Linked DNA regions of Homo sapiens: region 2 is linked to region 1. Evidence: fine-mapped expression QTL. Tissue or cell type: macrophages after interferon gamma. Region 1 holds a variant in brackets; the other region holds the start of a gene. All regions are shown on one strand. Distances are from middle to middle.

What was found. PIP is the estimated chance that this variant, and not a neighbour inherited with it, causes the effect.
Region 2: TTBK2 starts here. The variant in region 1 is fine-mapped to the expression of TTBK2 in macrophages after interferon gamma (Alasoo 2018, PIP 0.95).

Annotation. Positions count from the first base shown.
Region 1 is chr15:42,995,741-43,001,028 of GRCh38, reverse strand. UBR1 (ubiquitin protein ligase E3 component n-recognin 1) reads left to right here. Exons shown (of 47, transcript NM_174916.3): 33 at 2,764-2,861. Among named protein-coding and RNA genes, the nearest start is that of TTBK2, 78 kb to the right of the region's middle. The variant G/AG (reference allele first, on the strand shown) is at 2,092.
Region 2 is chr15:42,918,544-42,923,831 of GRCh38, reverse strand. It overlaps TTBK2 (tau tubulin kinase 2), which reads left to right and starts at 3,054. Exons shown (of 15, transcript NM_173500.4): 1 at 3,054-3,394. RefSeq lists enhancers at 2,433-2,532, 2,735-3,235, 3,236-3,736 and a silencer at 3,053-3,462.

The DNA.
Region 1 (5,288 bases):
AAACCCATCTCTACTAAGAATACAAAAATTAGCCTGGCATGGTGGCACATGCGTGTAATCCCAGCTACTCAGGAGGCTGAGGCACGAAAATTGCTTGAACCCGGGAGGTGGAGGTTGCAGTGAGCCGAGACCATACCATTGCACTCCAGCCTGGGCGACAGAGCTACACTCTGTGTCAAAAATAAATAAATAAATAAAGAGTTGTTCTAATCTCTAATATTCCATGTCATTGATAAACCTAAATTGAAATTGTCTTCTTCAACGTATGTGGTAACATGAGAAAGAATTATCTTTGATTTGAGTAATTAATATATTTTAGGCATTTTACCAAGCAAATGCTGCATTATCTTATTTAATTATCACAGTAGTCCATTGAAGTAGGTACTGTTATTTCCATTTAAAGATAAGGAATTGGAGACTAGGGATAGTTTTTACTTGTCCCAAGACAGACCTAATATTCAAACCCAGACCTGACTCCAAAGCCTTACCTAACTATACAGCAGAAGACAAAGATAAAGGAAATCATAATAAAGTGACTTTCCAATTTCTTGTACAAGCCTTTTTTACACAGTGGCTCCCCCAAAATAGGATTATTAAACTATGTAAATTGTTCTCTAACAGAATATTTAGCTACTTCTTTCCTTGATGACTTTAAGGATCAGATGCTTCAGAGCAGTTCTTTCTAAATTCAGAAAACTGATCCTTAAAACTCTTAGAACTAGTTAAAGGTCTCTTAGAACTCTGGCACACTTTTAATCTATAGTAACAATTCTGTTACTCAGGATCTGAAATACATGATTATACATAGCAGTTTTATTAGATACTTCGACTTACCCATATAGTTGATTATATTTGCCTTTTTTGGATTTTAGGAAATCAGCATGAATATAATCTAAGATAGTAAAGATAAAAGCATATAAAAACTGTCAAAACTAAGATTTTGATTAAAAATGTATAATACAAACTTACGAAAAAATTTAAAACTAATAAACTGGTATCTGTAAAGAAAATTGGTTATAACCAGTCATAGTACATTTCCATTTTTTGAAAACAAAAAAAACTTCTTAGGTCAAATTTGTGCCCAGATAGGTAAATTTTGGCACAGTTCATTATATATTTTACCTTTGCTCAAGACTATTCTTTCAATAAAAAGATTCCTATTTTATTTTTAATAACACTGTTTCTAGTCCTTCTTGGTTTTTTTTTTTAGATAGGGTCTCACTGTGTGCTGGAGTGCAGTGGTGTGATCTTAGCTCATTTCAGCCTCAACCTTCTTGGGCTCAGATGATCCTTCCACCTCAGCCTCCCAAGTAGCTGGGACCACAGGCATGTGTCACCACACCCCACTAATTTTTGTATTTTTTGTAGAGACAGGGTTTCACTATGTTTCCCAGGCTGTTCTCTAACTCCTGGGCTCAAGCGACCCACTCACCTCAGCCTCTCAAAGTACTGGACTACAGGCCTGAGCCACTGCACCCAGCCCTTCTTTGTTCTTAATAACAGTCTGTCTCAAGTCCCTGTCCTTACGTCCATTTTAGGAAGGAGAGACTGGCAATAAAAAAATAAAACAAAATGTTGAGTAGTGAGGAATACTATGAGAAAGCTAAAGCAGTAGGTTAAAGGGCTGAAGACAGACTGGGGCATGAGGCTATTTATAGACAGAGTTGTCAGGGAGCTCTTCTCTGAGATGGTGACATTTGAACAGAGACCTGAATAAAGTGAGGAATAATCACTGCTTTTCTCTGGGAGAAAAAAATTCTAAGCACAGGCTATATCAAGAGCAAAGGCTCGGTTGGGTGTGGTGGCCCACGCCTGTAATCCCAGCACTTTGGGAGGCTGAGGCGGGCGGATCACGAGGTCAAGAGATCGAGACCAGCCTGGCCAACATGGTGAAACCTTGTCTCTGCTAAAAATACAAAAATTAGCTGGGCGTGGTGGCAGGCACTTGTAATCCCAGCAACTCGGGAGGCTGAGGCAGGAGAATCGCTTGAACCCAGGAGGCAGAGGTTGGTTGCAGTGAGCCAAGATTGTGCTACTGCATTCCAGCCTGGCGACAGAGTGAGACTCCATCTCAAAAAAAAAAAAAAAAAA[G/AG]CAAAGGCTCCAAGTTTGGAACCCCATGATCATGTTTGAGTCACAACAAGAAGGCAACATGGAATGGAGCAAGCAAAGACCAGATCATAAAAGGGATTATGAGCAAAGATTAGAAGTTATATGATCCTATTTACATTTTTAGAAAATTCTTCTAGCTGCTGTATGATGAATTCATACTTAAATGAAACACAAGAGTAGAAGCAGGAAGAACACTTAGGAGTCTATTTAAGTAATCCAAGTGAGGGCTGATGTGACTTGGATTAGGGGGTAGTAATGAGAGGTAGGAAGAAGTGATGAACTTGGGATATATTTGAAAGATAAAACCTGCAAGGTTAATTAATAGATTAGAATGTGGGGTGTGAGGGAATCAGAGAAATCAATGACAACACCTAGTTTTTGACTGGAGCAACTAGAATGGTGATTCTATTTACTGACATTTACTACCTGTGGGTGATTGGCATGTGGGTGGTGACTTATTTCTTGTAAGTTTAAAATTTCCTTCCCCTTCCAAAAAGCTACATTTTTAGACACATGTTTCTGTGACCTAGGAAATTAATCTGGAGGAACTCAACTTTTTTATATGACCATTTATCCAAGGAAATAATACAAATTCAGCTTTTCCATTTGACTTTGTACCCATGGTTGTAATAATTTTTAAATATCATTTTTCAGTGAGAATGCAGATGCTCTTGCTCAACTTTTGACCCTGGCACGGTGGATACAGACTGTTCTGGCCAGAATATCAGGTTATAATATAAGACATGCTAAAGGTTTGCTTAAATTTATTTTATATTAGCTATGTGAAGATGGTGTCAGAATCTTTATTTTTTTAAATAATTATTGGGCTAAAATATGGTTTGCAAGTACAGATTTCTTGAATATCAGGAAATAGAAGTTTTTGAAGCTAAAAATAAGTGGCTTAAATTGCTTTATTAAATTTAATCGTTTTTCATACTAGGAGACAATACAGACAGTGATTATACTATCAAGTCCATCTATCTGATTATTCCAAGCAGTCAAACTGCTTAGATTTAAATCTTAGATCCAAGATTCATCTAAATCACTAAGATCCACTTACTGATTATGTGATCTTGGGCAAGTTACTTAAGCTCTGTGTGCCTCAACTTCTTATTTGCAAATCGGGGATAATAATATTATAATAGTACCTATTTTATTGGTTGAAGGATTAGCAGAGTTATTATATGTAAAGTAGAATAGTCCATGGTACATAGTAAGTGCTACATGTTAGCCATTACTATTACTAATACTATTAATGTGTGGTTAGTAATGTTTGTAATAACAAAAACATTTTAAAACTATCATCTTATTTACATATTCTTTACAGTTGTGAGACAAGTATGGCTATTAATGGAGATGTGCTTAAAAGGATAAAGTGGGAATTTTTAAAATACAGTGAGGAAAAGTTGTCTTTTGTTTAGGCCAATGGTCCCCAACCTTTTTGGCACCAAGGACCGGTTTTATGGAAGACAGTTTTTCCTCGGATGAGGGGGATGGTTTTGGGATGATTCAAGTGCATTACATTTATTGTGCATTTTATTTCTATTATTATTACATTGTAATATATAACGAAATAATTATATAACTCACCATAATGTAGAATCAGTGGGAGCCCTAAGCTTGTTTTCCTGCGACTAGATGGTCCCATCTGGGGGTCATGGGAGACAGTGACAGATTGTCAGTCATTAGATTTTCATAAGGAGTGGGCAACCTAGATTCCTCACATGGGCAGTTCATAGTAGAGTTTGCGCTCCTATGAGAATCTAATGTGGCTGCTGATCTGGCAGGAGGCGGAGCTCACGCGACAATGCAAGTGATGGGAAGCGGCTGTAAATTCCGATGCAGCTTTGCTCACCTGCTGCTCACCTCCTGCTGTGCAGCCCATTCCCAAGGTTCCCAACAGGCCATAGACTGGTACTCGTCCATGGCCCTGGGGTTGAGGACCCCTGGTTTAGGCAGTGAAATCAGTAGGGTGAAGGCAAAGTCCAGTATTTAAAAAATTATCTTCTCATCCCCTCTTTGGATCTAAAATTGATGAAAACCATACCTAGAAAATATTCAAGAATATTTCTAGGTATTCTACTCAAAATATTTATGTCTTATTTCTACAATTCATATCTTTCTGTATTTATCCACATTTTCCCTGATTATTTTACCCTCTGTTGTGATTTAATTATGTCCTTTCAGTTACGTACTTTTAAGGAAAATGAAGGATGTATACAAAAGCTACAGAGGAAGAAATAGCGGTGATGGTTTTATTTCTCATCACCATAGTCTAAGTTACAAAGGTTTTTTGTTTGTTTTGTTGGGGGGGTTTGTTGTTTTTTTGTTTGTTTGTTTAGACAGGTCTCGCTCATCACCCAGGCTGGAGTACAGCTCACTGCAGCTTCAACTTCCTGGGCACAAGTGATCCTCCCACCTCAGCCTCCCAAGTAGCTGGAACCACAGGCTTACACCACCACACCCAGCTAATTTTTAAATTTTTTGTAGAGACAAGGTCTCGCTGTGTTGCCCAGACTGGTCTCAAACTCCTGGACTCAAGCAATCCTCCTACCTCAGCCTCCCAGAGTACCAGGATTACAGGCATGAGCCAGTGTGCCCAGCCTAAGTTATCATACAAAGTTTTATGTTCCCTGCCTCGTTGACCTCATATGTGTGCATGTTACGCAGTTAAGAATGATACAAGAGGAAATAGCATTAACAGCCAGATTTTATAGTATAAAACAATAGGACTCATAGGATTTTTAAGAAGGAATTGATCAGTAGGGGCTGAAGTAGTAAGGGAAGATGTCATGGAAAAAATGAGATTCGATTTGACCTTGTATAAAATTTGGATGTGTGGTAGGGATAAAGGAGAACCCAGGTGGAAAACAGAAATGTTTTTAGGGAACTGTGAGCATGGCATTTTCAGAGACATTGAAAAAGCCTGGCCTACCTTAGTTGAGAGTACACAGTGGGGAACAGTGGAGAATATGGGGCAGTTGTGGAGGTTTGTAAGAATTTGGACTTGGTCATGTAGAAACACAGAATGATGGAAGACAACAGTCAGCAATGAATGAGTCTGGCAACGTCCTGTCAGTTTCCCCTCCTCCTTCATTTTATAACAAAACCTTTACCACAAGTGCTAATGAGATAACAATCTGTTGGGTGGAAAACTCTTCTAACAAAAGAACTTATAT
Region 2 (5,288 bases), 77 kb after region 1:
GCTTGACTGGGGCTGGAGGATTCATTTCTAAGAATGGCTCACTAACATAGACGGCAAACTGGTGCTGATTATTGATGTGATGCTTCAGTTCCTTGCCAGGGGAACACTGCATGGAACTGCTAGAGTATCTTCAGGAGAAGACAACTGGCTTCTCCCTAAATAAGTGATCCAAGAACACATAAGGCAGAAGCTACAATGTCTGTTATAACCTGGCCTTGATATTCCCACACCATAATTTCTGGAAAATCCTATTGGTTACACAGGTCAGTCCAATTCAGTATGGAAAGGAATAAATAAGAATGAGAGTAAGTGAGGTAGGGATCATTGGGGGCCATCTGGAAGTCTGGCTACCACATTTATGTATTAGAGACAGAGTCTTGCGTTGTCACCCAGGCTGGAGTGCAGTGATGCAATCATAGCTCACTGCAGCCTCGACCTCCTGGGCTCAAGCAATCCTCCCACCTCAGCCTCCTGGGTAGCTGGGACTACAGGGGCCAGCTAATTAAAAATATATATTTTTTGTAGAGACAGAGTCTCACTATGTTGCTAGGGCTGGTCTCCAACTCCAGGGCTCAACAGATCCTCCTGCCTTGGCCTCCCAAAGTGCTGGGATTACAAGTGTGAGCCACTATGCTCAGTTTATTTCTTAAAAGAGATACATGCATATATATTTGAGTTTTATATATATACTTGAGATCTATCTATATCTATAACTCAAAGGGGATTCCTAAACTCCAGTACCAGCTCTTGAATAACATATTACATTGACATTTAGCCTGACTGAAAGAGTATCTCTGGGGACAGCTCAATAATTCTAAAATGGAAAAGACTGGAGAAAAGGGGAGGCTTTTATTGCTAAGCCTAATTTCAATGAATCTGGACATTTTTTCCCTAGAAACTTTTTTTTTTTCTTTTTTAAAGACAGGGTATCTCTGTTGCCCAGACTGGAGTGCAGTGATGCGATAATAGCTCACTGCAGCCTTGACATCCAGGGCTCAAGCAATCCTCCTGCCTCAGCCTCCCAAGTGGCTGGGACTACAGGTGCATGCCACCACACCTGGCTAATTTTTGTATTTTTAGTAGAGACAGGGCTGGCTAACTAAAAATTTTTTGTGTGTAGAGACAAGGTCTTGTTATGTTGCCCAGGCTGGTCTTGAACTCCTGGGCTCAACCGATCCTCCTGCCTCAGCCTCCCGAATAGCTGAGACTACAGGGGCATGCCACCATGCCCGGCTAATTAAAAAAAATTTTAAATCCATGCTTCCGTGATCATTTTGTGTGTGTGTGTGTGTGTGTGCAGAAGGAGTCTCCTTATGTCTCCTTACATTGCCCAGTTTGGTCTTGAACTCCTGGACTGAAGTGATCCTCCCACATCAGCCTCTCAAAGTGCTGGGATTGCAGGCATTAGCCACTGTGCCTGGCCCCTATAAACTTCTTTAATTTTAAAGAAAAATATTTACAGAAACCCTAATGTTTTCTTATTCAAATTATGTGATTGGTCAATACTCTGAAATGAATGAAGTACTCTATTAGACATAGTAATAGAAAAAGTAACGTGTGGTTTTAATCAGTAGAAATAAAAAACAATTTGGCAACATCTTTATGTTTGCATAGAACAAGATGAGCTGCATCATCACTTGCCTTTAATGTACATTTTGTCCTGCTTTCAATCCAAGGATCTGGACATGACAGAGAGTAGAGATGCCTGCTGTTTTTAAAAAGAATGGCAAGAGGCTGTGGCACTTCCTGAGCAAGAAGAAACAGATTCTATAGGAACAGTTCCAAGATTGAATATAGGATTAGTCATTTACCTTTCTATATTCTTAATCAGCTTTAATGACAATGTCACTTGAGTGAAGAAAAGGATTTAAAGTAAAAATGAAGTTCATAATTCATTACATTCTTTCCATTCATGGCAGAACCCTGGGGATCATTGTGATTCTTAAGTAGAAAGGACATTAGATGTGGGGCGTATGAGAGACCTGAGTTTTGGTTTTGCCACTGATTAGTTTATAGCCTTAGGAAAGCTGTTTAGCGTTTTTCATGTGTTTTCTCTACTGTACACTGGTGGGCAAAGATGGGAGAGGTGCTTAATCTTAAGGTTTTCCTTCGCCAAAGCGACTGACACAACACTAAATAGAAACGCATCCTGCACAGCGTCCTTGCTCCGCCCTCCTCGCTTTTCTTTGAAAGTCTTTGAGCACCTCCCGCATACACTTGCTCAGCATCGCATACTGGTGTGCACCGGGGCTGGCCATTGAGTCTTTAGCTGGTGGTGTTTCACAAAGGGAATGAAATCTTGTTCTTGGGTTGTGAAACCGTAAGGACACTCCGGTCTCCAAGTTGACATTCGTTTATGGAAGTGCCCATCTCCTTTCCTCGTCACACCTAAGGCCCTTCCCCAGTCCCCCAAAGATGATTAGCTTCACGTTAGGCGGTTCTGGGGACGGCGCCAATTTGCGGGATGCTGTCAGCGCTGATGCTGAGGAAGAGGATGGATCCTTAAGGCTTGCAGGGCCTCACGATTTGGGCCCTTCATCGCGACTGCCTCAGTGTGTAATTTCGTATCGTGACAAAGCATTTCCGATTTTATTCCGAAAAGCCCAACCATGGGGTCCCAACCATCCCTCTATAACCAATTTAACTGTCACGCTAGGAGAACACCTATGTGCGCAAACTACTTGTCTCGGAAGCCCTACTTCTCTCCTCGGGACAGGCGGGGAGTTGCGGCTATGGCTGGAACTACGAGGCCCAGAATTCCTAGGCGCATGCGCGCTGCCATTGTGATGCTCCTTTCCCGGTAACTCGCCCTCTCAGGCAAACCTGAAGATAGCGGCAATTCTCCGGTGGGGGGCGGAGACGGTTTCTGCCCGACTCTCCGCCCCCTTCGTGATAGGCAATGGGACTAGCCAACCGACGCTGCGAGTTCGGAACGCACTCTCCAATCAGCACCTGTAGCGGAGAGGTGGGCGTGCGCGCTGGCAGGGCAGGTGGGCTAGGCTGTGTCGGGTTACGAGGGGGGAGAATAACGTCGGGTCGGGTCAGCGGGCTCTGCAGTAGTCGCCGCAGCGGCGATGGGAGCGGTGGGGACGAGGCGGCGGCGGCGGCAGGAGGGGGAGCAGGTGCTGGCACAAGAGCAGCGGCTTGGGGGAGCCGGCAGCAGCAGTAACAGCAGCAGCAGCCGCCGCCGCCGCCGCCAGTAAACGCGGACGGTACCCCAGGGGACTACCCAGCCGGCCGGCCCTGGAAGCCGCGCTCGGGTCCCGCCGCAGTCGGCGGTGGGGGATGGGCAGGCAGTGGCGGTCCCGCCTGCCGAGGGTTAACCCCCGCCGGTCCCGGTCCTGAGCTGGACCAGAGCCCTCCTCCAGAAACCCCTGCGTCCGCCACGGCCCAGGTAGGACACACCCCCCGACCCCCCAGGGCGCCGCCCTCCCCCAGTCTCGACCCCCTCCTCCGGCCGCACCCCTCGCCGAGTGACCGAGCCTGCTGAGGAGGGGAGGGGTACCGGGGACTTTCAGTTCGCTGCAAGCCCGGGGCTCGTGCCAGACCCCGTCACTCTCCATCTCGGAGATCGTTCTGGTTCTGCCCGATTTCCCCGAAGGCTGCCGCCTCGTTTTGCCCCAGGCTTTGGGTGTCTTCACTGAACTTGGAGGGTCACGAAGCTTCGTTCTGCGTCTCTCTCTGTGGGTGACCCACATATCACTTGTACCCATGCCACTTCTGGTACCAGCACCGAACACGAAGGATTCCTAGGAAATCTGAGCGCTTATTTCCCACCCCGCCTCCCCAACTATCATGGAAAGGAACATGGGACTACTGAATCTGTTTGCTGTGTTGTAACGACAGTGAAGGCCGCGACTTTCTTGTACTTAGGGTGCTGAAGTAATGATCTGAGGGATTTGCTCGTCATTTGCTGTGGCAGAGATGATGTTGACACCCTGGGATGCTGTGGGAGGGACAAAAGACTCACGTATATGTTCTGTCAAATCGGAGAAGTAAATAATCCATTGGGATGCCAGGATACTTTATTCTACAGCGAAGTTAATTTTGTATCCGTCGAGGCTACAGTAGAGGTAAAAATGACATTGAGTTGTACTTTGCTTTGAATTAAAGTTGATGGGTAGCAGCAATCCTGGTATTAACTCTTCTCTCTCATCGCTTTAGAAATTATTCTTTCTTTGAACATTAAAGAGGACAGTTTTATTATACACTTCTAATAATGTGAAGATGTTTTGTAATTCAGTAGAAATTGAGTTTCTGTGTGTGTAGGAGGGTCATGTTATGAATGGGCACATGTAGACACACACGCAGAGGGAGGATCCACTCAGTGTGTTTTGTTAACAATGTTTGGTTCTGAGCCATTGATAATAGTTGCATTGGTATCTAAACCCTGATTTGCCACAGTATAACACAAAGATGTGTTGGCTGTGTACCTTTGGCTAAATGGAATAGAATAAAGTTCATTTGGGGATAGAAGGGGGAAATGATTTTAACTTATCAAGGGAATTGAATGCTATGTATTGCTTGCTTTATTTCCTTTTTTTTTTTAAATAAAGAAGCAGTAATGATGACAAATATAGCTTAATATGATTAATCTTGAGGCATTTGTCTGAAGTCAAAAAATGTTTCAAATAATGTGTGTGTTATATTGTGATCTATGCAAATTGAAAACATTGAAGGAAATCTTTGATTTAGAAGCTTATGTTTTCCTGTATGATAACATTTTATCAAGACACCGAAGGGGACATATGAAGCATGGTTTTAAAGGAAAGTTTCTCTTAACATTTTTCTTTTATGATAGAATGTTAGGAAATGCTTTCTTCCCTCTTCCAGTTTTAGACACAGAAGAAATTAAAGTCCATAACTTCATTAATTTAATATATAATATCAAGTTGATGCAAATTTGTACATTGGTTAGGGGGCTGAGAATAATATATCTTGCTCATTATCTTGTACTATGGTTAATACATAATTTAGTAAATTCTCTATTGCATTATATATGACTTTAGATTGTTGTATCTTCTTTTGATTTTAAGTGTTGATTATTTTAATACTTCAGGAAATCTTCAAGAGGTTAGACCTCATTTGCTTTAGCAAATTGAACTCAATTATGTGGGGCTTCAAGTATCTTTAAATGTAATACTAGAAGGGAAGTTTGCATAATTTAGACCATTTTCGAGCGTATTTTACTTCTAAAAAGTGCACTAAAAATGTGGCAATGATAAGTTATTGGTTTTTCAAAGTAAATGAATATTACAGATCCGAGTTAGCTGTGATCATGGAATTTA